Homo sapiens: one gene and its partner. The protein of the gene in region 1 interacts with the protein of each later gene in a pairwise test. Each region holds a gene or a part of one and is shown on either strand. Other genes may lie near its edges.

Evidence for each region.
Region 2: the proteins of KRT3 (region 1) and WASHC1 interact in a two-hybrid assay, tested with the Homo sapiens proteins (one large-scale study listed by BioGRID).

The regions. Positions count from the first base shown.
Region 1 is NC_000012.12:52,789,185-52,793,117, forward strand, and holds the end of KRT3 (keratin, type II cytoskeletal 3), read right to left. Parts: intron 3,623-3,933; coding exon 3,527-3,622; intron 3,220-3,526; coding exon 3,055-3,219; intron 2,633-3,054; coding exon 2,507-2,632; intron 2,243-2,506; coding exon 2,022-2,242; intron 1,689-2,021; coding exon 1,654-1,688; intron 1,175-1,653; coding exon 858-1,174; 3' UTR 501-857; downstream 1-500.
Region 2 is NC_000009.12:14,013-16,734, forward strand, and holds the end of WASHC1 (WASH complex subunit 1), read right to left. Parts: coding exon 2,706-2,722; intron 2,050-2,705; coding exon 1,897-2,049; intron 1,138-1,896; coding exon 1,069-1,137; intron 929-1,068; coding exon 795-928; 3' UTR 501-794; downstream 1-500. UniProt on the Homo sapiens protein: Acts as a component of the WASH core complex that functions as a nucleation-promoting factor (NPF) at the surface of endosomes, where it recruits and activates the Arp2/3 complex to induce actin polymerization, playing a key role in the fission of tubules that serve as transport intermediates during endosome sorting.

The DNA of each region.
Region 1 (3,933 bases):
TGTTCCTGGGTCAGACTTTGACATAGGCTGCTCTGGGGCCTATTTCCATCCCTGGGCTTCCAGCAGCCCGCACTTTCCCGGAGCACCTTGATGGGGGAAAAGCTTTCACGATGTCAGCTGGAGTGAGAATCAACACCAAGGGAAGAAACCCTCTGTCCCCAAGGCCCTCTTAGTTCCCCCACATGAGAGAAGACAGGGAGGAGACAGATGTCTGCATGGGCCAGCCTTCACCACTAAGGACGGTAAGGGTACACAGGGTACAACAGCGTCGGGGAGCAGGACCTCTCCCTCCCCACGGTGCTCACAGAATAATGAACAACCGGATCCGCACCATGGACTGAGAAGACGAACTGCCTTTGTTTCAGAGGAAGAGTTCTCCAGCTGCTCTGTGGATCACAGAGCCCACATGGGAGAGGCAGAGGCAGGGAGGCCAGGGAGGTGACCAGGGAGCTCAGTGCCCTAAGGAGAAGGACATGGAGCGAATACTCAGAGGCCCGGAGTGAAACACAGTGCACTTTATTGGCGACAGACCGGAGGGGCGGAGGGGGCTGTGTGCTATATACATCAGAGCTGTAGTGAGCATCCCACCCAGGGAGGGGACTCCGGGGCAGCAGAAGGTGGCGGCCTAGGCCACACCTGGACAATCACAGGCACAGGCTGGAGCCGGAGAGAAGAGCCTGAAATTCTCGTGACTGGGCTTGGCCGGGGATCTGGAAGGAGGAGCAAGAGGCCACAAGCCTTCCAGCGCAGAGCCGCGTTCTTGGGGAGCATGGGGTGGCGCTGGGGGTGTTGCCAATATGGGGGCGTGGGGAGCGGAGGGGAGGCGCTGGAGTGGCTGCGATGCTGATGCGTGCTCTTTATCTGGAGTAGCGCTGGGAGGACTGGGAGGACTGGGAGAACTTGATGCTGCCGCCCCGGTTGCTGGCCGAGCTGAAGCCCCCGCCACTGACTCCATAGCGGGCGCCAGAGATGGAGCCAAAGCCGCTGCCACCGCTGAAACCGCTGCTGCCGCCGCCAAATCCACCGCCGATTCCACCGCCGCCTCCCCGGCCAAAGCCACTGCCTGAGCCGCCGCCCGCACTGAAGCCACCTCCTAAACCACCGCCCATGCCTCCGCCGTAACCTCCTCCATAGCCACCTGCGGAGGCGGAAGTCGTGCTGCTGCTGACCACGGCTGTGGGGGAGAGGACAGGACAGCGATCAGCGACGGCGCCCAGGCCAGCTGCTATGTTATTGTCAATGATCCACCGGGCCCACGACTATCCAGAGCTGATCAAGGCAGCTTTGCACAGGATGTTCACCACGAGCCGTTCCAAGGCCACTAGCTACTCACTCCCCTGCCGTTAAGCCATTATGAATTAGCCAGTGGTTCCTCCCACAGTACAGTCTTGATGACCCCCTTGGAGGGGATCTAGCGTCTGAATTTATCCTCCTATCAAGAGGCCCCCTGTTGGATATTCCACATTGGCCGTCGAAGCCTATTAAAAGTGCCCTGAACCCAGAACAATTACAAAAGCCAATCACTTCCCTCTCCTCTCCCAGAAAACCCCTCCAACTTCCGTAAAAATATGTTTAAATTAGTTGCTACTACCCTGGATTAGTGCAGATATTTCAGAATTAACTCTCATTTTCTTAGCTACTTTCGGTACTTACAGATGCTGACAGCACTCGGACACTCTCCAGACATCCTGTTTGAGAAAGCAAGAGAAAGTGGGCCCCGTCACAAAGCACATCACCAACAAGTCCACGGACCAAGGGCATGAATAGCAACCAGAGCTGAACAGAGAAGCCTGGCAAATCAGGTAAGCTTTCTCCACCCCTCTTTGGGCTGTAGCAAGGAGAGCCTGTGGGCACTGGTTGCATACGTGCCCTGGGAGGGAGTGGGCTGGTAGAGGCAAATGCTTCACCACAAGGCCTCTCTTTATACAGCAGGGCTCCATCCCCAGTTACTTGGTCACTTATCTGGCCCTTGGCCTATGACTTGAGCCAGGGGGTGTGGGAAGACGGGACTGGAGGCTCACCTGTACTCCTCGCCCTCCAGCAGCTTGCGGTAGGTGGCGATCTCCACGTCCAGGGCCAGCTTGACATTCATCAGCTCCTGGTAGTCACGTAGCAGCCGCGCCAGGTCATCCTTCGCCTGCTGTAGAGCAGCCTGCAGCTCTTGGAGCTTGGCATTGGCATCCTTGAGGGCCATCTCTCCATGCTGCTCGGCCTCGGCAATGGCCGTCTGCAGGTTGGCATTCTGGGGCAAGGGAGGTAGGAGGAATGAGCTCAGTAAGAGGGCCCCAGGCCCTTCCTGACATGCAATGGATTATCCCATCTTAAAGTCAGGGAACATTCCTCCTCCCCTAGTGCCTCCATCTTGTCTCCATTTGTGGAGATACTGCCCTGTGGGTCAGCCAGCCTGAGATGACCTCCAGACGTCTATTCCAGGGGAGGAGTCCTGAGATCCTAGCCCCTGCCCCTCAGCAATCATCCCAGGTGCCAGCATCCATGACCATCCCACCTGCTTCTTGACACCCTCGATCTCTGCCCGCAGCCTCTGGATCATTCTGTTGAGCTCTATGATCTCGCTCTTGGTATTTCTTAGGTCATCCCCATGCCTGCCAGCCGTGGTCTGCAGCTCCCCCAACTGCAGAACAGAAGGGAAGATGGGGTATTCCTGCAGCTTTGCTTGACTTGTTTCTACACCTCCAACATCACCCACCAAACCTTCAGAAGCTCAGTAAGGCATTTGCTAAAATGATACTGCATTGTGTTTCAGCAGGGAAACCCCCAAGGCAGCAGGAAAGAGAACATCTGGGTTGTTGTGGTAGAAGATTTTCCTACCCTGTAGTTCCTGAGCAAGTTGGAGTCAGTCCCACATAGCAGGCAACCATCTCCCCCAGGGGCAAGACTTTCTGCAACTGAACCACCATTAGAAGGATGACTTCAGAGGGTAAAACCAAAAGGCATTCACCCAGTGACCACTGGGAACTCACTACCCAGCTGTCCAATAGGCCATGGCCTCTCTGAAACCTCCAGTGGATCCCGTAAGAGGTGACTAGCACCCACCTTGGTCTGGTACAGGGCCTCAGCTTCGGCCTTGCTTCTCTGAGCGATATCCTCATACTGTGCACGAACTTCAGCAATGATGCTGTCCAGGTCCAGGGAGCGATTATTGTCCATGGACAGCACCACAGATGTGTCACTGATGTGGCTCTGCATCTGAGATAGCTCCTGTCAACACAGAGGGAGCTTGTTCACTTTTGGGGTCCCTGTAACAAGCACACAGGGCCCTGAAAGACTCTTGATCAACAGTCTCATTCACTGATTCCTTGCTCCACATGTGTATCAGCCACACCCTGTCCGCAGCCACTCAGAGAACCCCATGTCTGCAGCTTATCCTGTGGAATCCCTTCCAAGGGTCCTCATCTCCAGGCTCATTCCAGATGTCTTCTGGGGCCTATATACCAAAATGCACCAGCCTCAAATCTGGAAACACCTCACTCTCCCTCTGTCCCTTCTTAGTAGGTAACATCCTTACAGCGTCGTAGAGGGTCCTTAAGAAGTCGATCTCATCTATCAAGGCATCCACTTTGGCCTGAAGCTCCACCTTGTTCATATAGGCACTGTCCACATCCTGAGAAAAGAGGAAGATAAAGGCCTTATTCTCCCAATGAACAAACAGCAAACCACAACTGCAGCAAGAAAGAGCAGAGGGGACTGGTGCAGTGATGGTCCTTGTCTAAGACCAGTCTCCACTTGAACGGGCAATTTGTATCTCATTAGGATGGTCTAAGTTTAATCCTACTAAAAAACTAAAGACTGATGAACTAACTCTTTTAGGGATCTTCCAGACTAAGGTGCACCTGACTTCTGTTTATTGCTCCAAAGGCCTGAACTTGGCAGCTCTGTGGCAGTGGAGTGAGGAGATTCCCCCAACCCAGCCAG
Region 2 (2,722 bases), on another chromosome or scaffold:
GTCTCAATTTAAAAAGATCCCCATGGCCACAGGGCCCCTGCCTGGGGGCTTGTCACCTCCCCCACCTTCTTCCTGAGTCACTCCTGCAGCCTTGCTCCCTAACCTGCCCCACAGCCTTGCCTGGATTTCTATCTCCCTGGCTTGGTGCCAGTTCCTCCAAGTCGATGGCACCTCCCTCCCTCTCAACCACTTGAGCAAACTCCAAGACATCTTCTACCCCAACACCAGCAATTGTGCCAAGGGCCATTAGGCTCTCAGCATGACTATTTTTAGAGACCCTGTGTCTGTCACTGAAACCTTTTTTGTGGGAAACTATTCCTCCCATCTGCAACAGCTGCCCCTGCTGACTGCCCTTCTCTCCTCCCTCTCATCCCAGAGAAACAAGTCAGCTGGGAGCTTCTGCCCCCACTGCCTAGGGACCAACAGGGGCAGGAGGCAGTCACTGACCCCGAGACGTTTGCATCCTGCACAGCTAGAGATCCTTTATTAAAAGCACACTGTTGGTTTCTGCTCAGTTCTTTATTGATTGGTGTGCCGTTTTCTCTGGAAGCCTCTTAAGAACACAGTGGCGCAGGCTGGGTGGAGCCGTCCCCCCATGAAGTACAGGCAGACAAGTCCCCGCCCCAGCTGTGTGGCCTCAAGCCAGCCTTCCGCTCCTTGAAGCTGGTCTCCACACACTGCTGGTTCCGTCACCCCCTCCCAGGGAAGCAGGTCTGAGCAGCTTGTCCTGGCTGTGTCCATGTCAGAGCAACGGCCCAAGTCTGGGTCTGGGGGGGAAGGTGTCATGGAGCCCCCTACGATTCCCAGTCGTCCTCGTCCTCCTCTGCCTGTGGCTGCTGCGGTGGCGGCAAAGGAGGGATGGAGTCTGACACGCGGACAAAGGCTCCTCCGGGCCCCTCACCAGCCCCAGGTCCTTTCCCAGAGATGCCTGGAGGGAAAAGGCTGAGTGAGGGTGGTTGGTGGGAAACCCTGGTTCCCCCAGCCCCCGGAGACTTAAATACAGGAAGAAAAAGGCAGGACAGAATTACAATGTGCCGGCCCAGGGTGGGCAGCGGCCCTGCCTCCTACCCTTGCGCCTCATGACCAGCTTGTTGAAGAGATCCGACATCAAGTGCCCACCTTGGCTCGTGGCTCTCACTGCAACGGGAAAGCCACAGACTGGGGTGAAGAGTTCAGTCACATGCGACCGGTGGCTCCCTGTCCCCACCCCCATGACACTCCCCAGCCCTCCAAGGCCACTGTGTTTCCTAGTTAGCTCAGAGCCTCAGTCGATGCCTGACCCAGCACCGGGCACTGATGAGAAAGTGGCTGTTTGAGGAGCCACCTCCCAGCCACCTCGGGGACAGGGCCAGGGTGTGCAGCACCACTGTACGATGGGGAAACTGGCCCAGAGAGGTGAGGCAGCTTGCCTGGGGTCACAGAGCAAGGCAAAAGCAGCGCTGGGTACAAGCTCAAAACCATAGTGCCCAGGGCACTGCCGCTGCAGGCGCAGGCATCGCATCACACCAGTGTCTGCGTTCACAGCAGGCATCATCAGTAGCCTCCAGAGGCCTCAGGTCCAGTCTCTAAAAATATCTCAGGAGGCTGCAGTGGCTGACCATTGCCTTGGACCGCTCTTGGCAGTCGAAGAAGATTCTCCTGTCACAGTTTGAGCTGGGTGAGCTTAGAGAGGAAAGCTCCACTATGGCTCCCAAACCAGGAAGGAGCCATAGCCCAGGCAGGAGGGCTGAGGACCTCTGGTGGCGGCCCAGGGCTTCCAGCATGTGCCCTAGGGGAAGCAGGGGCCAGCTGGCAGGAGCAGGGGGTGGGCAGAAAGCACCCGGTGGACTCAGGGCTGGAGGGGAGGAGGCGATCTTGCCCAAGGCCCTCCAACCGCAGGCTCCAGGGCCCGCTCACCTTGCTCCTGCTCCTTCTGCTGCTGCTTCTCCAGCTTTCGCTCCTTCATGCTGCGCAGCTTGGCCTTGCCGATGCCCCCAGCTTGGCGGATGGACTCTAGCAGAGTGGCCCAGCCACCGGAGGGGTCGACCACTTCCCTGGGAGCTCCCTGGACTGGAGCCGGGAGGTGGGGAACAGGGCAAGGAGGAAAGGCTGCTCAGGCAGGGCTGGGGAAGCTTACTGTGTCCAAGAGCCTGCTGGGAGGGAAGTCACCTCCCCTCAAACGAGGAGCCCCGCGCTGGGGAGGCCGGACCTTTGGAGACTGTGTGGGGCCCGGGCACTGACTTCGGCAACCACCTGAGCGCGGGCATCCTGTGTGCAGATACTCCCTGCTTCCTCTCTAGCCCTCACCCTGCAGAGCTGGACCCCTGAGCTAGCCATGCTCTGACAGTCTCAGTTGCACACATGAGCCAGCAGAGGGGTTTTGTGCCACTTCTGGATGCTAGGGTTACACTGGGAGATACAGCAGTGAAGCTGAAATGAAAAATGTGTTGCTGTAGTTTGTTATTAGACCCCTTCTTTCCATTGGTTTAATTAGGAATGAGGAACCCAGAGCCTCACTTGTTCAGGCTCCCTCTGCCCTAGAAGTGAGAAGTCCAGAGCTCTACAGTTTGAAAGCCACTATTTTATGAACCAAGTAGAACAAGATATTTGAAATGGAAACTATTCAAAAAATTGAGAATTTCTGACCACTTAACAAACCCACAGAAAATCCACCCGAGTGCACTGAGCACGCCAGAAATCAGGTGGCCTCAAAGAGCTGCTCCCACCTGAAGGAGATGCGCTG